Homo sapiens: one gene and its partners. The protein of the gene in region 1 purifies or fractionates together with the protein of each later gene. This does not show direct contact. Each region holds a gene or a part of one and is shown in the gene's direction. Other genes may lie near its edges.

What was found.
Region 2: the proteins of AP1M2 (region 1) and AP1G2 purify together in Homo sapiens (affinity purification with mass spectrometry; 4 studies listed by BioGRID and IntAct, with this or other methods). This does not show direct contact.
Region 3: the proteins of AP1M2 (region 1) and AP1B1 purify together in Homo sapiens (affinity purification with mass spectrometry; 5 studies listed by BioGRID and IntAct, with this or other methods). This does not show direct contact.

The regions. Positions count from the first base shown.
Region 1 is NC_000019.10:10,584,265-10,592,276, reverse strand, and holds the start of AP1M2 (AP-1 complex subunit mu-2), read left to right. Parts: upstream 1-4,964; 5' UTR 4,965-5,045; coding exon 5,046-5,087; exon of another isoform or gene 5,088-5,122; intron 5,123-8,012. UniProt on the Homo sapiens protein: Subunit of clathrin-associated adaptor protein complex 1 that plays a role in protein sorting in the trans-Golgi network (TGN) and endosomes.
Region 2 is NC_000014.9:23,564,792-23,572,128, reverse strand, and holds the start of AP1G2 (AP-1 complex subunit gamma-like 2), read left to right. Parts: upstream 1-4,337; 5' UTR 4,338-4,390; exon of another isoform or gene 4,391-4,577; coding exon of another isoform or gene 4,578-4,678; exon of another isoform or gene 4,679-4,809; 5' UTR 4,810-4,813; coding exon of another isoform or gene 4,814-4,814; coding exon 4,815-5,018; exon of another isoform or gene 5,019-5,442; coding exon 5,443-5,567; coding exon of another isoform or gene 5,568-5,709; coding exon 5,710-5,851; exon of another isoform or gene 5,852-5,968; coding exon 5,969-6,065; coding exon of another isoform or gene 6,066-6,236; coding exon 6,237-6,313; exon of another isoform or gene 6,314-6,427; coding exon 6,428-6,523; exon of another isoform or gene 6,524-6,673; intron 6,674-6,929; coding exon 6,930-7,010; intron 7,011-7,288; exon of another isoform or gene 7,289-7,337. Other genes in the region: JPH4 (junctophilin-4), read left to right, coding at 209-327, 669-1,201, 2,412-2,495.
Region 3 is NC_000022.11:29,385,571-29,392,379, reverse strand, and holds the start of AP1B1 (AP-1 complex subunit beta-1), read left to right. Parts: upstream 1-3,809; 5' UTR 3,810-3,956; intron 3,957-4,283; exon of another isoform or gene 4,284-4,471; intron 4,472-6,809. UniProt on the Homo sapiens protein: Subunit of clathrin-associated adaptor protein complex 1 that plays a role in protein sorting in the late-Golgi/trans-Golgi network (TGN) and/or endosomes.

The DNA.
Region 1 (8,012 bases):
AATCCCAGCACTTTGAGAGGCTGAGGTGTGCGGATCACGAGGTCAGGAGATCGAGACCATCTTGGCTAACACGGTGAAACCCCGTCTCTACTAAAAATACAAAAAAATTAGCCGGGCTTGATGGCGGATGCCTGTAGTCCCAGCTACTCCGGAGGCTGAGGCAGGAGAAGGGTGTGAACCTGTGAGGCGGAAGTTGCAGTGAGCCGAGATTGCGCCACTGCACTCCAGCCTGGGCGACAGAGCAAGACTCTGTCTCAAAAAAAAAAAAAAAAAAAATTTAAAAATTAGCTGGGAGTGGTGTTGCTCACCTGTAGTCCCAGCTACTGGAGAGGCCTAGGTGAGAGGATCTCTTGAGTTCAGAAGGTTGAGGCTGCAGTGAGCCGTGTTTGCACCACTGCACCGCAGCCTGGGCGACAAAGCAAGTCCTTGTCTCAAATAAATAAAAAAAAAAAATAGGCTTCTGTAATTCAAGGGGCTGTCTTGAGGATTCCTGCATGGGCGACATTTAGGGCCACCCTCACTTATGGTGAGCACCATTTAAGCCAGAGTTAGTGTTACTAATAGTAATATTTGCATCCAGCAATATAGCAAAGCAGGCGGAAGCAGGCTGGGACCAGATTCTTAAATCCCGGGACTCAGATTCGAATTCTGGGTCAACTGCCTCCTGGCTCTGGGGCCGTGGGCTTGGGCAGGTGCCTTCACTTCTCTGTGTCCCTGCTTCTACCTTTATAAGATGGCACGAAGGAGACTTGTGCCAGATGATAACTTTTTATTTTTCATTCTATTTATTTATTTTCTTGAGACGGAGTCTCACTCTGTCACCCAGGCTGGAGTGCAGTGGTGCCATCTCGGCTCACTATAACCTCCGCCTCCCCAGTTCAAGTGATTCTTCTGCCTCAGCCTCCCAAGTAGCTGGAATTACAGGCATGCGTCACCACGCCCGGCTAATTTTTGTATTTTTAGTGGAGACAGGGTTTCGCCATGTTGGCCAGGCTGGTCTCAAACTCCTGGCCTCAGGTGCTCTGTCCACCTTGGCCTCCCAAAGTGCTGGGATACAGGCATGAAACATTGCTCCTGGCCCAGATGATAATGTTTTAATTAAAGTGCAGTGCTGCTGTCAATGTTGATGTTAATTTCAGGTGGAGAGGCAAGTGGATGATCCTGATAGCTGCTGTTCTCTAAGTCCCCACCTACAGGGGCTGATAAAGGGCTGGGCAGGGTTTGGGGAAAGGACAAGTGAGGTCTGGGTAGGCTGAGTCTTGTTCCCTGCAGGCCCTGCAGGACATCTCCCTCCCTCAGCCAAGCAAGGTGGTTCTAAGCAAGGCTGAGGTTTACTTTCCCTTTCCTTCTGCCCTGTCCTCAAAACTACCGCACTTTGGGAGGCTGAGGTGGGCGGATCACGAGGTCAAGAGTTCGACAGCATCCTGGTCAACATGGTGAAACCCCATCTCTAATAAAAATACAAAAATTAGCTGGGCATGGTGGAGTGCACCTGTAGTCCCAGCTACTTGGGAGGCTGAGGCAGGAGAATCGCTTGAACCCAGGAGACAGAGGTTGCAGTGAGCTGAGATCGCACCACTGCACTCCAGCCTGGCGACAGACTGAGACTCCATTTCAAAAGAAAAAAAAAAGGAAAGTCCAGGGGTGGAATCTGGGTCTGCAGCAGCTGGTGTGCACGAAACATGCATGGAGCCAGGGGCCATGCCAGGTATTTGGCTATGCAACTGCAGGAGAGGGCACCATGGCTGTTATACCCATTTAACATAAGAGGAGACTGAGGCACAGCAGGTGCATTCACCAGCCCATGCCTTATAGCCAGTGTGTGGTGGTATCAAAAATCAAACCCAGCATCTGTGCTCTCAACTGCTACATCATCATCCAGATCATCATCTTCATCCTCCTCCTTCTCAGCGACATGGTTGACAGTCAGCTACATCCAAGTTCCCTTCCAACACCACGTTGCACAGAATAACTCATTTAATCTGCACAAACCAGGCACAGTGGCTCAGACTACGCCTGTAATCCCAGTACTTTGGAGGGCCAAGGGGGGAGGATCGCTTGAGCCCAGGAGTTTGAGACCAGCCTGGGCAACATACCGATACACCATCTCTACAAAAAATGTAAAAATTAGCTAGGTCGGGCCGGGTGCGGTGGCTTACACCTGTAGTCCCAGCACTTTGGGAGGCCGAAGCGGGCGGATCACGAGGTCAGGAGATCCAGACCATCCTGGCTAACATGGTGAAACCCTGTCTTTACTAAAAGTACAAAAAGTTAGCCAGGCGTGTTGGCAGGCGCCTGTAGTCCCAGCCACTCGGGAGGCTGAGGCAGGAGAATGGTGTGAACCTGGGAGGCGGAGCTTGCAGTGAGTTGAGATCGCGCCATTGCACTCCAGCCTGGGTAACAGAGCGAGACTCCATCTCAAAGAAAAAAAAAAATTAGCTAGGTGGGCCTGGCCTGGCGCGGTGGCTCACACCTGTCATCCCAGCATTTTGGGAGGCTGAGGCGGGTGGATCACGAGGTCAGGAGTTCAAGACCAGCCTGGCCAAGATGGTGAAACCCCCGTCTCTACTAAAAATACAAAAAAAAAATTAGCCGGGCGTGGTGGCAGGCGCCTGTAATCCCAGCTACTTGGGAGTCTGAGGCAGAGAATTGCTTGAAGCTGGGAGGCAGAGGTTGCAGTGAGCAGAGATTGCGCCACTGCACTCCATCCTGGGCGACAAAGCCAGACTCTGTCTCAAAAAAAAAAAAAAAAATCAGCTAGGTGTGGGCCAGGCGCAGTGGCTCACGCCTGTAATCCCAGCATTTTGGGAGGCCAAGGCAGATGGATCACGAGGTCAGGAGTTCGAGACCAGCCTGGCCAACATGGTGAAACCCCATCTCTACTAAAGATACAAAAAATTAGCTGGGCTTGGTGGTGCACGCCTGTAATCCCAGTTACTTGGGAGGCTGAGGCAGCAGAATCGCTTGAGCCTGGGAGGCAGAGGTTGCAGTGAGCCGAGATTGTGCCATTGCACTCCAGCCTGGGCAACAGGACGAGACTCCAAATTAAAAAAAAAAAAAAAAATTAGCTAGTTGTGGCCAGGCGCAGTGGCTCACATCTGTCATCCTAGCAATTTGGGAGGCCAAGGCGGGTGGATCACCTGAGGTCGTGAGTTCAAGACCAGCCTGACCAACATGGAGAAACCCTGTCTCTACTAAAAATACAAAAAAAGTAGCCGGGCATGGTGGCGCATGCCTGTAATCTCAGCTACTCGGGAGGCTGAGGCAGGAGAATTGCTTGAACCTAGGAGGCATAGGTTTCAGCGAGCCGAGATCACATCACTGCACTCTAGCCTGGTAAACTAGAGCAAAATTCTGTCTCAAAAAAAATTAGCTGGGTGTGGCGGTTTGTGCCTGTAGTTCCAGTTACTAGGGAGGCTGAGGCAGGAGGATGGCTTGAGCCCAGGAAGTTGAGGCTGTAGTGAGCCATGATTGCATCACTGCAGTCCAGTCTAGGGTACAGAGTGAGACCCTGTCTCTACAAAAAAAGTTTTTTGGCTGGGTGCGGTGGCTCACGCCTGTAATCTCAGCCCTTTGGGACGCTGAGGCGGGTGGATCACCTGAGGTCGGGAGTTCGAGACCAGCCTGGCCAACATGGTGAAACCCCATCTCTATTAAAAATACAAAATTAGCCAGGCGTGATGGCGCATACCTGTAATCCCAGCTACTTGGGAGGCTGAGGCAGCAGAATCCCTTGAACCCGGGAAGCGGAGGTTGTAGTGAGTAGAGATCATGCCACTGCACTCCAGCCTGGAGTCTAAAAAAAAAAAAAAATTAGCTGGGCATGGTGGCGCTTGCCTGTAATCCCAGCTACTAGGGGTGCTGAGGCAGGAGGATTGCTTGAACCTGGGAGGTGGAGGTTGCAGTGAGCCAAAATCATTCCACTGCACTCCAGCATGGGCAACAGAGTGAGACTCCATTTCAAAAAACAAAAAAAAATAAATTTTTTATTTGAAATGAATAAGAGTAAATTTGTAAGAATAATAAAAGCAAGTACATTTGTCCTGCTCGGAATTATATCCACAGTTCCTGTTACTGAGTGAATGAATATTTCAAATTCAGTCAGTAAAATTCACCAGTGAAAATTATTATATGAATGAGTGAATGAATGAATTGGGCAAATTTTGAGCACCCAGTGCTGAGCACTAGGGACATAAACATGAACAAGACAAAGTCCCTGCTGTATGGGGGCTGACGTGTGTGGGTGAGACAGAGGAGAAAGAAGGTGAATGGATGGATGAATCAATGAGAGGATGAATGAATGGATAGATGGGTGGATGAATGGATAGATGAATAAATTAATGAATGCAAGAATGGATGGATGGATGGATTGATGAATGGATAGATGAATAAATTAATGATGCAAGAATGGATGAACGGATGGATGGATGGATGGATAGATGAATAAATTGATGAATGTTAGAATGGATGAATGGATGGATGAATGGAAAGATGAATAAATGAATGAATGCAAGAAGGGATGAATGAATGGATGAATAAATGGATGGATGAATGGATAATGGATAGACGAACAAATAAATGAATGCAAAAATGGATGAAGAAATGGATGACGAATGGAAGGATGGATCAATGAATCGATGGAAGATGGATTAATGAATGGCTAAATGAGTGGATGCGTGGATGGATTAATGAATGCAAGAATGAATGGATGGATGGACGAATGGATGGATAGATGAATGAAAGGAAGGATGAATGAATGGATGGAAGGATGGTTGATTGGTTTGGGGTCTCCACCCGTCATTACTCCTGGGTGGCTAGGGAAAGTGAAGGGGGGCAGCAGACCCATCTGAAGTCGCAGTACCTCTCCCGGCCCCGCAGCCATCTTCAAGTTGGCCGACAGCGCTGCTCACCTGGCCGCCTCCCCTTTAAGACGCACACACCTGGGCTCTCACCTGGGCGCAGGCGCTTCCGCAGGAAGAAGGAAGCGGCGCCGCCATCGCCTCCCGGCGCTCCCTCCCCGACTCCTAAGTCCTTCGGCCGCCACCATGTCCGCCTCGGCTGTCTTCATTCTGGACGTTAAGGGCAAGGTGAGGCTGGGCATGAGGAGTTGGGAGACGGACAGGTGAGGTCTCGCTCCCAGGGATTCAGGGGCGACCCCTCCGCGCGGGCCAGGAAGAGGTCTGGGAACACCCCCTCCCCCTGCAATCCCTGGGAATCCCACCTCCAGCATCCACTCGCCTTGTGCCTGAGGCCAAGGGGTTCGCCTCCTAGGGCCTCAGTTTCTCTGTATGTAAAAATGGGAGCAACAGAGGTCCCCACCCAATGAGAATTAATACAACTCGCTGCGTGTAAACTACTTAGCATAGTGGCCTTTCTGGAAATATTAGGGACTCAGCAAATTGAAATTATCTCCATCACTGTCGGCATCCACAGTGTTAATACCTGGGGAAGGCAACTGGAACAGGGGCCTCTAACTCCCCCCATCTGTGGCTGCCTTGCCTCTTCCTGAAGTCCTTTTATTCCTCTTGTCTTTTTTTATTTTGGAGACAGGGTCTCTTGCTGTCTCCCAGGCTTGAGTGCAGTGGTGCGATCATAGCTCACTGCAGCCTGGAATTCCTGGGCTCAAGCGATCCTCCTGCCTCAGTCTCCGGAGTAGCTGTGACTACACAGGTGCAGGCCACCATGCCTGGCTAATTCTTGACATTTTTTTGTAGAGGGATCCCGCTATGTTGCCAAAGCTGCTCTCAAACTCCTGAATATCTGGGGCTGCGGGCTGACCCCTCCATGCCCGGCTATTTTTAATTTTTTTTTTTTTTTTTTTTTAAATAGAGTCTTGCTCTGTCACCCAGGCTGGAGTGCAGTGGCTCCATCTTGGCTCACTGCAACCTCCACCTCCCGGGTTGAAGCAATTCTCCTGCCTCAGCCTCCCGAGTAGCTGGGACTACAGGTGCATGCCACCATGCCTGGCTAATTTTTGTATTTTTTTTTTTTTTCAAGACAGAGTCTCGCCTTGTCACCCAGGCTGGAGTGCAATGGCATGATCTTGGCTCACTGCAACCTCCACCTCCCAGGTTCAAGTGATTCTCCTTCCTCAGCCTCCTGAGTAGCTGGGATTACAGGCGCGCACCATCACGCCCGGCTAATTTTTTGTATCTTTAGTAGAGATGGGGTTTCACCATGTTGGGCAGGATGGTCTCAATCTCTTGACCTCGTGATCCGCCCACCTCGGCCTCCCAAAGTGCTGGGATTACAGACATGAGCCACTGCGCCCGGCCGCACCCGGCCTATTTTTTATTTTTATTTTTTTGTACAGATGGAGTCTTGCTATGTTGTCCAGGATGGTCTTGAACTCCTGGTCCCCAGCTATCCCCCTGCTTCAGCCTCCCAAAGTGTTCGGATGACAGGTGTGAGCCACTGCAGTCAGCCTGTCTTGTCATTTAATAGCCAAAATAAGAGTGGTGGTGAAAATAATATTCCCATTAATATTAATAGTGAGAGCTAAGATGTTTGAGAACCTGCCATGGGTCCTCCCTGTTCAGACACTGGACAAAACAACCTTAGGAAGTGGTTAACTAATTTTTTTTTTTTTTGGAGATGGAGTCTCGCTCTGTCACCAGGCTGGTGTGATCTCAGCTCACAGCAACCTTCACCTCCTGGGTTCAAGTGATTCTCATGCCTTAGCCTCCTGAGTAGCTGGGATTACGGTCATGCGCCAGCACACCAAGCTAATTTTTGTATTTTTAGTAGAGACGGGGTTTCATCATGTTGGCCTGGATGGTCTCGAACTCTTGACCTCATGATCCACCCGCCTTAGCCTCCCAAAGTGCTGGGATTAAAGGCGTGAGCCACCGTGTCCAGACAGAAGTGTTTACTATTATGGGTGTCTTCCTGACTACCAGGCACAATCATATGAACTGTCATCTTTCTTTCTTTCTTTCTTTCTTTCTTTCTTTCTTTCTTTCTTTCTTTCTTTCTTTCTTTCTTTCTTTCTTTTTTTCTTCTTTCTTTCTTTCCTTCTTTCCTTCTTTCCTTCTTTCTTTCTTTCTTTTCTTCTTTCTTTTTTTGACAGGGTCTCACTCTGTTGCTCGGGCTGGAGTGCAGTAGTATGACCACAGCTCACTGTAGTCTCGACCTCCTAGGCTCAATTGATTCTTCTGCCTTAGCCTCCAGAGTAGCTGTGACTACAGAGGTGCAGGCCACCATGCTCAGCTAATTCTTGAAATTTTTTGTAGAGGGATCCCGCTATGTTGCCAAAGCTGGTCTCAAACTCCTGGCCTCAAGGGATCCTCCTGCCTTGGTCTTCATGAGTGAGTCATTGCACCTGGCCTCTTCTTTGTTTTTTTTTTTTGTTGTTGTTGTTTTTTTAAATAATCCCACTTTGGTGCAAATGAAGTCTGGGGCAACAGCAGGGATTCTGGACCCAGGATGCCTTAGATCAATCCCCAGTTTCCATATGCTTCCAGTGGACATGGTTTCTAACCTCACTTCTCCTGTGTGAAATGGAGATGATGATAACATCTACCCCACAGGGTTGTGGCAAGAACTAATAAGTTAGTAAACATCTACTCTTTTTTTAGTAGCCAGCCTGCCTGCCTACCTTCCTTCCTTCCTTCCTTCCTTCCCTCCTACCCTCCCTCCTTCCCTTCCTCCCTTCCTTCTTTACTTTCTTTCTTTCTTTCTTTCTCTCTTTCTTCTTTTGAGATGGAGTCTTGCTCTGTCGCCAGGCTGGAGTGCAGTGGCACGATCTCGGCTCACTGCAATCTCCGCCTCCCAGGTTCAAGTGATCCTCCTGCCTCAGCACCCCGAGTAGCTGGGACTATAGATACACGCCATCACGCCCGGCTAATTTTTTGTATTTTTAGTAAAGACGGGGTTTCACCATGTTGGCCAGGATGGTCTCGATCTCTTGACCTCATGATCCACCCGCCTCGGCCTCCCAAAATGCTGGGATCACAGGCGTGAGCCACTGCGTCCAGCCATCGCCTACCCTTTAATAAAACACAGCCTGGCAC
Region 2 (7,337 bases), on another chromosome or scaffold:
GCCCAGGTCAGGGGGAGGAAACCAAACGGGAGCTGCCCTGGCCTGCCAGGAAGGGAAGCAGCTGGCAGAGTGTGGCGAAGGGTGACGACTCCAGAGGAGAGGAGGATGTGATGTAGAGGGGACAGGGGCTAGGGGGCTGGAGCATCTGAGCAGGGACTAACTTGAAGTGGGGGAAGTTCTGCTAAATCCCTGTCTCTGGACCCGACAGGGCAGCAGACGCCCTCCTAAAGGCAGTGGCAGCCAGCAGTGTCGCTGAGAAGGCCGTGGAGGCAGCTCGAATGGCCAAACTGATAGCCCAGGACCTGCAGCCCATGCTAGAGGCCCCAGGTGAGGCATGGACAGCTGGGGGGAGGGCAGTGAGGCCCCTAGGGAGCTAGAGAGGCTCAGGTGTGGGGAAACAGATGAGAAGCCCTGCAAGGGAAGTGGGGATGGGAAAAAACAAGGAATGAGGGTGCAAGGAACACAGGGTGGGGGCCAGACCTGGTAGTCTGGGGAGTGGGACTTGGGAATGTATGCAGTAGGATAATGGGGGGTTTGGGGTCTGGCGGTGAGAGGCTATGAGCCTGGGAATTCCAAAGTCCTGGGAAGTGCCCAGTCAGGAATAAAGCTGCAGCCACTCCAGCCCAAGGCCAGTTAGGCCCCTCTGATTCTCAGCTATCCCTACCCAGGCCGCAGACCCAGGCAGGACTCAGAAGGTTCCGACACGGAGCCCCTGGATGAGGACAGCCCTGGGGTATATGAGAACGGACTGACCCCCTCAGAGGGATCCCCTGAACTGCCCAGCAGTCCTGCCTCCTCCCGCCAACCCTGGCGACCCCCTGCCTGCCGGAGCCCACTGCCTCCTGGAGGGGACCAGGGTCCCTTCTCCAGCCCCAAAGCTTGGCCTGAGGAGTGGGGGGGGGCAGGCGCACAGGCAGAGGAACTAGCTGGCTATGAGGCTGAGGATGAGGCTGGGATGCAAGGGCCAGGGCCCAGAGACGGTTCCCCACTCCTCGGAGGCTGCAGCGACAGTTCAGGAAGTCTTCGAGAGGAGGAGGGGGAGGATGAAGAGCCCCTGCCCCCGCTGAGGGCCCCAGCAGGCACGGAGCCTGAGCCCATCGCCATGCTGGTCCTGAGGGGCTCGTCCTCGAGGGGTCCTGATGCTGGGTGCCTGACAGAAGAGCTCGGGGAGCCCGCTGCAACCGAGAGGCCTGCCCAGCCGGTGAGATCCTCTGTCCCTGCTGTGTGCCCTCTTCTCCCAAAGCCTTGCCTCCCACCCTTTCCAGAACTGTCTGATCACCGGGGGGGCTTTTTATCTCACTCGGCTTCCTCTGCCTGGCCAGTCTTGGACCACATCCCACCTCAAAAAAATAGAGGGCGTTCGAGCTGGAAGGAACCTTACACACCTGCAAGCCCAACTCCCTCATTTGACAGATGGGGGAACTGAGGCCCAGAGCACTTAAAGTAACTTGCCCAGGCCGGGCGCGGTGGCTCACGCCTGTAATCCCAACACTTTGGGAGGCCGAAGTGGGCGGATCACGAGGTCAGGAGATCGAGACCATCCTGGCTAATACAGTGAAACCCCGTCTCTACTAAAAATACAAAAAAAATTTAGCCGGGCGTGGTGGCGGGCGCCTGTAGTCCCAGCTACTTGGGAGGCTGAGGCAGGAGAATGGCGTGAACCCGGGAGGCGGAGCCTGCAGTGAGCTGAGATCGCGCCACTGCACTCTAGCCTGGGTGACAGAGCGAGACTCTGTCTCAAAAAAAAAAAAAAAAAAAAAAGTAACTTGCCCAGGGTTGTAAACTAATAATTAATGGGAGAGCCAGAACATTTTTCCCCCGTTCTCCTTCCATATCATTTCCAGCTCTCAGTTTCCTACTCCACCCCCACCCCCACCTCCGCACTTTCTCTCTTTGGTGCCCAGAAATAAAAAAGGAAAAGATTGTTCCCTCCCTACCCTGACTCTCCCTCCCTCTCCCGGGAAGAAGTTGAAATAGAGAAGAAGGCAGAAAACCGGGAGAGGCGGAGTTTGCCCAGAACCCTCTACTCTGATTGGGCTCTAGGCCTTCTGTTTCCTAGCAACCACATCCTCACCCCTTCATCCCTCTGCCTTACTGCAGTACTGGCTGCTGCTGCCAATGTCTGCTACTAAGGCCAGGCACCTCCTGCCTGGGACACATGATATGCTGATGGGAGGGGACTAGAGGGAGGAGGTGGAAGGGCTGTCCCTGCATTGAAGGTGTCAGAGGAAAGGTGGGGCCCTGCCTGGGAGAAGAGGGGGTTTTGCAATCCAAAACAAATGTTGGCGATCCCCCTGCTCCAGGCTGTGCAGGGAGGTGCCTGAGACCCTTCAGCTCTGCCACCTCAGTCAGGGCAGGAAGGTGGGCCCTGTCCTCGGGGACTGAGTCTGCTTCCCCCTCTGTCTCTCTAGGGAGCTGCCAACCCCCTGGTGGTGGGAGCCGTGGCCCTCCTGGACCTCAGCCTGGCATTCCTGTTCTCCCAGCTCCTCACCTGAGGCTACTTCCTGGCCTGGTTCTGGCTTTGGTTGCGTGCCTCTTCACCCCTTTGACCTGCCTTTTTTCTCTTCTCCTCTTCCTGGCTGTGTTTTCTCCTATCTTTCTTTCTCTTCTTCCTTTCTTTTCTGTGCTCCTTTGTTTTTTTCTCTCGCTTTTTCTTTCCCTGTCTTCTTTCAGATTATCTCATTTCTTCTGGATCTGTCTCTGTATTCCTCACTCCCTTCCCCATCCCAACCCCTTCTTTCTCTAGATTGTTTACATATGAAGGGCTTTTCTCTCTCAGAGTTGCTGTCTTCTCTGAGACACACAAATCTAAGTCAGACCATTGCTCCACGCCCTCCCACCTTTTCTTTAGACCTCAACTTCGCTGCGGGTGGGGGTTTGGTGTCCTAAGGAGACTCCTGGAAGCTGAATGGAGAGGAGGAAGAAAATGAAGAAGGAGTGATTGAATGTCGGGCAAGGCACTGGCTGAGCTGCTGTGGCTCCCTAGCCTAAGGGGCCTGCTGTCCCTCTGAGGCCTAGTGAAAAAGCTGCAGGAGGTGCATCCTCCACCTCTAATCTTGGAGGCTATTATCTTACCTCCAAGCACTGAGCTGGGTTACTGCCCAATTCCATCCTTCCCTGAAGGAGAGAAGGGAAGTGAAAAGTAGAGTAACTCCCCAGCATTTCCCTCTTTTTCTCCTCATCGGCCAGCCCCTCCTCCAGCCCCCTCTGGTGGCATGCCATGCCAAGAGCAACGTGTAAAGGAACAGAGAATATCCAATGCAGTCAAGTCCACCCTGCCCAGACTTTGCCACTGACTTCTCCCACCCTTCTGTCTCCCCCATAATAGTTTATTTGGTTGGTCTGGACTCACTTGTGGCCTTTGATTAAATTCCTAAGGGGCCTGAAGAAGACATTTCTACTGCAGAGGGTTAGAGGCACTTGAGCAAGGCCCCCACATCCCAACTCTGGGAGTTGTGGTGGGAGGAGGCACTTCTGGGGGATAGGACCAGACAAGATAACAGGAGCTCACATGGAAGCAGAAGCTGTGACAAGTTTAGTAGTCCCAAAATGGGTTATATCCCTTCCCCCTTTACATCAGAATCTTGTGAAATGGGAAAACAACAGAAGGAGGGGATCAAAGATAGCTGATCTCACATGCTTCCCAGGCAGGGCAGAGGTGGGAGTCAAACCCGGGTGACAGGTGGGTGGAGAGCCCTGTTTGAGGTTGTGGCTGATCCCTCTCTGGTATTAGTTTTTCCCCTGGGAGCAGGAAGCCCTAGGAAGAGGGGACTGCAGGGTCCCCAGGGGATCTTTCCTCCCTCCCCTGCATGAGGCAGAGGCAAGCTGCCTGCCAACCCCCTCCCTCAAGGAATGGCCTTGCCCAGGAATGCCCACCACACATACCCTCTTCTTTTTTTCTAGTCAAACTCTTGTTTATTCCTTGGCTTGCCTCCCTCCTTCCTCCCCTCTCAACCTTTACTTCTGATTTCTATTTCATGGAATTTGGGATTGAAGTTAAACTACAACAGTGCCGCCAACACCAAGTCTTGCAGGAAAAAAATACAAAGAAATTTAACAAAAAAAATATATTAATAAAAAAGTTCAAAAAAGGGGGGGGATTGTCATCTCCTTTGGGGTGCGATGGCTTCAAATCCAAACTGAGGCTCTCCGGGTGGTAAGGATGTGCGAGGAGGCCTCTTGAAGAACTCCAGGCCTATCATGCTGTCTCTCCGCTAAAGCCTGAGGCCCGAGGTCAGAGGATTCAGGAAGGCTCTGCAGTCGGCCCAGGAGGGCGGGGTCCCGTGGTGGAGGCGGGGAGAGGGAAGGACCGCACGGAGCACCAACCCCTGCTCGGCCCCGTACCAGGAAGCGCTGGGGGGCAGAGGAGCGGAGTTGAGGCAGAAGCCAGGTGAGGCTGGAGTCCTGGGGTAGGCAGGCTGTCGCTGCCGCTGCCGCTGCCTGAGATGGAAATCGGGGGAGGAAGCTCGCGGAAGAAACAGCGGAGGGTCGTGGAAAAAAAAGCAATGGCTGAGCTAGGGATGGGGTACCAGGTAGGGGGAGGAAACGGTAGAGAGAAATAGGTGGGGCTCCCGCGCATGCTCAATAGGAAGGGGCGCCGGTGGGGTGCGGACGCATGCGTAGTGGGCTTCTCGGGCGGTGGGGTGGGCGCGGAATTTGGAGACCCACTTCGGGAAAGGTAAAATGCGGGCGCAATTTTAGGGTACCTGTGGGACCCGGGCTCTTAGGGTCTTGACACAGGACGGGCCTGGGCCGAAAGCCCAGGCACGCCCGACCAGAGAGTGTTTCTCCACTCCCGGACTCTGCCAGTCAGGATGGTGGTGCCTTCGCTGAAGCTTCAGGACCTCATCGAAGAGATTCGCGGGGCCAAGACTCAGGCCCAGGAGCGGGAGGTGATCCAAAAGGAGTGTGCCCACATCCGGGCCTCCTTCCGCGACGGGGACCCAGTGCACAGGCACCGGCAGCTGGCCAAACTGCTCTACGTCCACATGTTGGGCTACCCCGCCCACTTTGGACAGGTACTGGCCAGGAATACCTCCCTCCTGAGCTTGATGAAGGCTAGTGGGGCAGAGTCCCAGACTCTCTCACCTGTTTATGCCCTGGTTTTTTAAATTCTACAATTTCAGAGTCTTCACAGCCTGCACTGCAAACCTCTTTCCCCATTGCTACCCCTACTGGTCATCAGCTGGCCTGAACCCTTCATTCTCTGGCCAGCCTCCTTTAGGGCAGGCATCTCCTCCTCTCCGCTCCCATCCTCCTCAACTCCTAGTTCCTCCTACCCACTAACGCCTGAATTTCCTAAGCTTCTCCTCTTGTTGAAGGGAGAGTGATGAGATATGATGCCCCACAGGTTAATCTGGTTTTAAAGAGGAAGATGGAACAGGGATGTGAGTGTCTATGGTTTCACCCCTGCCTCTTCCTGGTCTGCCCCCTTCACTATAGATGGAGTGCCTGAAACTGATCGCCTCCTCCAGATTCACAGACAAGAGGGTGGGCTACCTGGGGGCCATGCTTCTATTGGATGAGAGGCACGATGCCCACCTGCTCATTACCAACAGCATCAAGAAGTGAGAGGGTTCTGGCAATCACTTGGAATCAGGGAGATGGGAGAGTAGGGACCTTGGAAATCCCAGGGGACTGCCTGTTGTGGGTATTGAAAAGGACTGATTTTCTCAGAGGTTTGACTGACCGTCCTCCCAAACCCTGCAGTGACCTGAGCCAGGGGATTCAGCCAGTACAAGGCCTGGCCTTGTGCACTTTGAGCACCATGGGCTCTGCTGAGATGTGCCGAGACCTGGCCCCAGAGGTGGAGAAACTGCTCCTGCAGCCCAGTCCCTACGTGCGCAAGAAGGTGAGATGGCGGGACTCCTGGCACGTGCTCCTGCACACTGCCTGCTGCGTGCTATATAGTAGTAGATGCAGGGGTCCATCTCCTCTGACCCCTGTCTGAGGCCCCTGACCTCTGCAGGCTATTCTGACTGCAGTGCACATGATCCGGAAGGTCCCTGAACTCTCCAGTGTCTTCCTCCCACCCTGTGCCCAACTGCTTCATGAGCGTCACCATGGTAAGGCTGTGGGGCCCCCCATCCTTTGCTTCAGGTCTATGGACAGAAGAATTGAAAATCGGATGGGAACCCCAGCTCACAGGAGAAGGGTAGTGCACACACACAGGCACACACGCAATAGACTCTCTTGCCCCTGGCCCCCACCATTCACTTCCCCGACGCTGACCCCAGGCATCCTGCTGGGCACCATCACGCTGATCACGGAGCTCTGCGAACGAAGCCCTGCAGCCCTCAGGCACTTCCGAAAGGTGGGCTGGTGAAGGGGCAGGCCCTGGGCCTGGAAGACAGGGTCAGTGGGGAAGGAATGGGGCTTTAGCTGGAGAGGATTAGAACGAATGCCCAAAGTTGTGCCCTCCCTCCAGGTGGTACCCCAGCTGGTACACATCCTCCGGACTCTGGTGACAATGGGATACTCCACAGAACACAGCATATCTGGAGTCAGCGACCCCTTCCTGCAGGTGGGGTGACCTTTCACTGCTGTATCCCTGGATCAGAGAGGGCATAGCAGTAAGACCATGACCAGTGGTTTCCTCCCAGAGAACACTGGTTCTCTCAGTGTCCTGGGCAGCAGAGTAGCAGGCACAGGATTGCTCGGGTCATCCCAGGACCTGTGAGGGGAGAGGGAATGCCTAAAAGTCAGGAAAATACAGTTTGTTAACAATTTTTTTTTTAAGCCTGTCCTAAACTCCCCTGGCCTCACACACCTCTGTTCCCCTCCTAGGACCAAGGGACCTGTGGAGGTGAGGAGGTGGGGGAAGGCTCTAGGGAGCGAGCCAGACCCTCACATGTTGGAGTTTTCTCCTCAGCCCCACGACTCCTTATCCTATGAACCCCTCCAACTTTCCATTTTCAACCCAACCTCAGGTCCAGATACTTCGTCTGCTTCGGATCCTGGGCCGGAACCACGAGGAGAGCAGTGAGACCATGAATGACTTGCTGGCCCAGGTGGGGCCTGGGAGGGCACTGGTTAGCTGTGTTGCTTGGAGACCCCATCAGCCCTGGGTGCCCCTCACATGACTCGTCACTGTGCAGTGGCCGTGTAATTGCCTCTCCATCTCCTCTAGACAGTGAACTCCATGAAGAAGGGACACAGTCTGTCTTAGTGCTATTGCCCCAGTGCCCAGGCTGGCCCTGGCACATAGTAGAGCCTCAGGGAACTTTGTTGGATGGTTGAAGGATGGACAGATAACATGTTGGAGTCCTTCAAGAATCCTGAGGATTACCTGGGCTTGTTGGCATGTGCCTGTAGTCCCAGCCACTCAGGAGGCTGAG
Region 3 (6,809 bases), on another chromosome or scaffold:
AGCCAGGTGTGGTAGCTCATGCCTATAATCCCAGCACTGTGGGAGGCCAAGGCGGGCGGATCACCTGAAGTCAGGAGTTCAAGACTAGCCTGGTCAACAGGTTGGAACCCCATCTCCACTACAAATACAAAAATTAGCTGGGTTTGGTGGTGGGCGCCTGTAATCCCAGCGACTCGAGAGGCTGAGGCAGGAGAATTGCTTGAGCCCGGGAGGCAGAGGTTGTAGTGAGCCGAGATTGCTGCCACTCCACTCCAGCCTGGGGGACAGAGCAAGACCCCGGCTCACCAAAAACAAAACAACAACAACAACAAAAACCTTCTACTTGTCCAGGCATCCCTGGTCCCTCCAACCCAAAGGAACTTCAGTTTTAGCTCTGGACTCCCATAGCCTCCCAGTATGTCCCCTCTCACAGCATCAGTCACACTTGTGACTTGCTCCTCTGTCACCCCCTCTCCCTGCAAACTGTAGGCTGAGCAAGGGCAGGGCCTTAGCCTCACCCATCTGACTATCCAGCACCCAGCCCAGGGCCTGGCTGAAACCAGAGGCTTGGAAAATGCTTTCTGCAGGACTCAGACACCTGGCTCCCTTGCACTGGGCGTGGGGGTGGGCCCGTGAGGTTTTCCTGCCTCGGCACAGTTCTTTTCTCTGGATTACCCTTTCCTTCTCTCTCAGCCTACGCAACTCTGTTCTCATTCGGCAAGACAGCGCAAATGCCATCTTCCCCAGGAAGTCCTTCCTGAGCCGCCCGGTGCTGTGACCTCTCCCTCCTTGGAAATCTTAAAGCTCTGACTCCTTCAACCACTGACTTGCCACTTGCACATAAGCTCTCCAGCTTGATACCTTTAGGTTTGTTGGTTTGTTTTGTAGGATAATTTTTCTCTTCTGATGTTACATTCCCAATGAAATTTTGTTTTCCACTGAGGCGGGTGGCATTTACCAACATCTATCATCAGAGAAGGGCAGTTCCTCCAGAAAGTTGCATATCACACATGCTGCATGGCACATACATACACATAAAATTATTCCAGGCACACAGAGGAAAGATCGTGTGAGGACATAGCAAGAGGGCGGCCATCTACAAGCCAAGGAGAGAGGCCTCAGAGGAAAGCAGCCATGCCAACACCTTGATCTTAGACTTCCAGTCCCCAGCACTGTGAGAAAATAAATTCCATTGTTGAAGCCAAAAGAAAAAAAAATTCCATTTGTTCCCTGACTACTTTTTTATTTTTATTTTTTTTGAGACAGAGTCTCACTCCGTCGCCCAGGCTGGAGTGCAGTGGTGCAATCTTGGCTCACTGCAAGCTCCACCTCCCGGGTTCACGCCATTCTCCTGCCTCAGCCTCCTGAGTAGCTGGGACTACAGGCACCCACCACCATGTCCGGCTAATTTTTTGTATTTTTTAGTAGAGACGGGGTTTCACTGTGTTAGCCAGGATGGCCTCCCTGACTACTTTTAAAAAGGATTTAAAAATGGAATAAGGTGGCCGGGCACGGTGGCTCACACCTGTAATCCCAGCACTTTGGGAGGCTGAGGCGGGCGGATCACAAGGTCAGGAGAGCCAGACCATCCTGGCTAACAACGGTGAAACCCCGTCTCTACTAAAAATACAAAAAAAATTAGCCGGGCGTGGTGGCGGGCGCCTGTAGTCCCAGCTACTCGGGAAGCTGAGGCAGGAGAATGACGTGAACCCGGGAGGCGGAGCTTGCAGTGAGCCGAGATCGAGCCACTGAACTCCAGCCTGGGTGATGGAGCGAGGCTCCGTCTAAAATAAATAAATAAATAAATAAATAAATAAAAATGGAATAAGGTTTGTAATTTAGATAACGGTATTTTACCAACACCACCAATTTCCTGCTTTTGCTATTATACTGCAGATATATAAAATGTCACCATTGTGGGAAGCTGGGTGAAGGGTATATGGGACTCAATTTTGGTACTAATTTTGCAATTTCCTGTAAGTCTATAATTATTTAAAAATAACTTTTAAAGGCTTTGAGGCTGCTTAAACATCTAAAATTATATTAAATATAAAAACCAGTAATATCTATATTAGATAGGACGTAGAGACTTAGCAATAAGTGCACTTAGCAGTAAGTGCAAGCTTATTTATTAACAACTTTTTGATAATATTAAAAAAGATGGATAACAACCTCAGGGGATTGTTTTTGAGATTAGCAGTACCATCCACGTAATGGAATACTATGCAGATACTGGAAAGTGCCAAGTAGAAATGTATTTACTATTTTGGGAAACTTTTACCAATATTTTGGTGAGTTAAAAAATACCAACAGTGGCTCACGCCTATAATCCCATCACTTTGGGAAGCTGAGGTGGGCAGATCACTTGAGGTCAGGAGTTCAAGACCAGCCTGGTCAACATGGTGAAACCCCCGCCTCTACTAAAAATACAAAAATTAGCTGGGCACGGTGGTGCATGCTTGTAATCCCAATTACTTGGGAGGCCCAGGCAGGAGAATCGCTTGAACCTGGGAGGCAGAGGTTGCAGTGAGCCAAAATCACGACACTGCACTCCAGTCCGGGCAACAGAGCGAGACCCTGTCTCAAAACAAACAAACAAAAAAAAACAAATGATCTATCAAGTTTGGAAGAATATTCACCAAAATATTAAAAGTGATTGTCTTAGGTCAGTGGGATTGCAGATGGTTTTTTTCTTTTTTCTTTTTTTTTTTTTTTGAGACGGAGTCTTGCTCTGTCGCCCAGGCTGGAGTGCAGTGGTGTGATGTCGGCTCACTGCAAGCTCTGCCTCCCGGGTTCACGCCATTCTCCTGCCTCAGCCTCCTGAGTAGCTGGGACTACAGGCGCCTGCCACCACACCCGGCTAATATTTTGTGTTTTTAGTAGAGACGGGGTTTCACCATGTTAACCAGGATGGTCTCGATCTCCTGGCCTTGTGATCCGCCCGCCTCGGCCTCCCAAAGTGCTGGGATTACAGGTGTGAGCCACCATGCCCGGCCATTTTTTTTCTTTTTTTGAGACAGGGTCTGGATCTGTCGCCCAGGCTGGAGTGCAGTGCTGCAATTATAGCTCACTGTAACCTCAACCTCCTGGGCTCAAGCTATTCTCCTGCCTCAGGCTCCCGAGTAGCTGGGACTACAGGTATGAGCCACTGTGTCTGGCTCAAGGTCACTCATCTTAAGAATGGAGGGGTCCAAACTAGAGCTGTAAACCTAGTTTGGACAGAGAGAGACCCCTCTGTAATCCCAGCACTTTGGGAAGCCGAGGCGGGAGGATCTCTCGGGTCCATGATTTCGAGACCAGCCTGAGCAATAAAGTGAGACTCTCTCTACAAAAAATAAATAAGTAAATAATAAGTAATTAGCCGGGCGTAGTGCTGCGCACCTGTGGTCCCAGCTGCTTGGGAGGCTGAGGTGAGAGGATCACCTGAGCCTGGGAGGCGGAGGGTGCAGTGAGCCCAGATCTTCGAGCCACTGCACTCTAGCTTGAGCAACAGAGCAAGACCCTATTTCAAACAAACAAACAAAAAATGAGTGACCTTGAGCAAAACCCTGCCCCTCTTAGAACCTCAGATTTGCCGTCTTTACACAGAAGATGGACTTCAAACTCCCTACGACCTTGCCCGGCCCCCTCACGCTGAATTGGCTAGCGGGATGGTTTCCCAAGGGCTCTGCGGGAGACTGCAGCATAGCAGCGCCGCGGCTGCCGAGGGGTTAATACCGTTGGGCTCTTCCCCTTTTCTTGCCCCGCCCCACGGGCACCACCCCCGCCAGGGTTGTACCCTTGACCCCGCCTTCAGGCCTTGCGTCCACCGGAAGTACCCGCGCGCGGGCAGCTCACTTCCGCCCGGCAGGTGACAGCCGCGGGGCTCCGAGCCGCCGGCAGCCCGGACGCACCGGGAGAGCGAGAGGTGGAGGCCGCGGACATTTTGGTGCCAAGCCGAACCGAGCCGGGGCGCCGGGAGCTATTGGGACCTGCGGGTGAGGAAGCGGGGACCCGGGCGAGCCAGGAGAAGAAGTGGGGCGAGGGGTCAGGGGTCCTAGGTGAGGGGTTTGCGGGGTCAGAGGTCATGAAGAGGACGCGGCGCTGCAGGGGCGCGAGCGACGTCCCCAGCCAGAGGAGGAGGAAGGGCTGAGGGTTCGTTCATTCATTCGCGCCCACTTGGCCGCCGGCCTGTTCCTCGGCCGCCCCATACCCGCAGCACCTCCTGGGGCTTCCGCCCGGAGAGACAGGACTTAGGCCCCGAGGAATTCCCCACTGGCCTGAGGGAAAACTCTTCGGGCTCTGATTTCCTCTTTCGGACTCACCTCCATGGCCATCCTGAGGCCTCCTCGTTGTTCAGGGCGTTATCTCTTTGCCAAGGTTGAAAAAGAAGAAAGAAAAAAAAACTAGAAAACGGTCCCGTGCCGCCCGCCTCCGGCTAGGCACTGGCTTGGTCTTGTTTGTTGGAGCCTCTAAGACAAGTTAACTGAATGGAGACACCGGTGATAATGCTGCAAAATAACGAGGGAGATGCTTGCTAGTGGCTATCGAGTCCCTTCTGTGTACCGGGCACTGTGCTAAGCACTTTCCTTACAATGACACATTTAAACTTCACAGCAACCTTTGTGGGGATTAAATATCCCTATTTTATCGATGAGGACCCTGAGGCACAGAGAGGTTAAATCCCACATGTAAGGTCATTCGGGTAGTAGAGGCAAGGCCAGGTTTTCTGCCAGGCTGTCAGAGACCTGCAAAGTACAGAGACAAAGGAAAGACTGGAGTTAAGGTTGGGGTGTAGGGGATATTTAAGACTTTTAGCCAGACATGGTGGCTCACGCCTGTAATCCCAGCACTTTGGGAAGCTGAGGCGGGTGGATCGTGAGGTCAGGAGTTCAAGACCAGCCTGACCAACATGGTGAAACCCTGTCTCCAATAAAAATACAAAAATTAGCCAGACATGGTGGCGTACGCCTGTAATCCCAGCTACTTGGGAGGCTGAGGCAGGAGAATCGCTTGAACCCAGGAGGTGGAGGTTGCAGTGAGCCGAGATCGTGCGACTGCACTCCAGCCTGGGCCACGGAGTGAGACTCCGTCTCAAAAAAAAAAAAAAAAAAAAGATTTTTAGCTGCCGTTGTATTTATTTGGATTTATGTCACGATGTAGCCTTATTGCTTTTTGTCTGATCTTCATAAGGGGCATTCGACTTACTTTCTTTAGGATAAAACAATCCTACAGGCTGTTGCTATTAGTGATACCTTTCAGGGCAAGAGTCTAAGATTTTCCTGACTTTAGGGAACAGTGAGACACAAAACAGGCTATCCGTGAAAACTATTTGAAGATTGTCGAGAACTTCTCTTCAGAGTGGTTGAGCTGCATTCGTTTTGGTCTAAAAAGAGAGGAACCACATGACCTCTAGGGGATCTTTTGGTCCTAGGTTCTGGAAGAAGGTACCCAGAGGAAGAATCTTTGCCTTTCTGAGAAATATGCAGGCCCCATGGCTTCTTGCCAGAGCAGAGCACGTCTTACTTGGGAGGTGGTGAGACGGTTTGGTGGCTGGAGGACTAGGCTGTATGAATCTAAGCCTCATTCCATTGCGGATATTCACTTGCTTCAATTCTGCCTCAGTTTCCCTGACATCAACATGAGAAAGACCTGCCGCCTTCCTGTCTGCTCCTAGGGGTATGAACCTGTGAATGAACCCGTGAGGGCTTCCACATGGCTTCTGAAGAAAGCTGTATATAAATATTACTGTAATACCTTTTTTTTTTAAGCTGTGTGATCTATTCTCCTAGTTCCATTGAATTCACAGAAACTTAATATTGTCACCTTATATTCCCATCCTTCCAAGGGAGGATTTGAGATGAAGCAACTTGTCACAGAGGGTAGGAACATGAGCAGAGCTCAGAGCTTCTGGTTTTCTGTCCTGAGTTGAGCCCACCAGTCTCCTCTGACCTCTTAGAAACTGTCATGAGGAGCATCTTCAGTAGGTCTCAAAGAGTCAGATCCCTCAGAGATTGTGTGAAGATCATCTGTTGAGTGTAGGTCAGTGGAGGCTTCACCCTGAGCTGCTTCAAGAGCCCAGAGGTATGATGGAAAGATCACCAGACTCCCAGTCAGTCAGCCCTGGGTTCAACCCCAGCTCAGCAGCTTCCTGGCAGTGTGACCTGACCTGGACCGTTGACATAGGCTGGCCCTCCTTTACCTCAGTTCTAAAATAATACTGGCCACCCTTTCTGACTCCTCTACCCCTGGTTTGTGTGAGGGTTAGATGGGAAAATTTGTGCAGGGCCTGTGATTTTTGGGTGCTTTGACTCTAGGCAGACTGATGCCTGCTGGGGGCCTGTGTCTGAGGAAGGCTGCCAACCTTGGCTTCTGGAGCGTTACTTCCTTCTGCAAACAGAGACCTTAATGTACGCAGGACTTTTTCCACCCTTCTTGTTTCACTTCCTAAAAGTAGTTCAGAACAAGTTCAATTTGTTGGTCCTTCTGGCTTTGAGCTTGGGCTTGCATCTTTTTCTAGTCATCCTCTGAAACTCTTGCATGTCTTAACTACTTCCCAGGAACTTCCCGTGTCTGGCACCAAAGCCTGACATGCTGACAGTAAGCAAACATGGCTTGGGTTTTGCACTTCGCTGTGTTTCTGAAGGTTGAGGTGACATCTGTGCCTTGCAGACATTTCTTTTTCTCAGCAGGTCTTTTTGCCTAAGAGACATCGTTGATATTATCACAGCCCAGAAGTGATTTTTCTGTTCTTTATGTCTTCACATGGAGAGGAACAAATACTCCTGAGAAAAAATGTCAACAGAGCAGTTGGGGAATCCTTAAAGAAAATTCTGCTTGAAAATTCATCA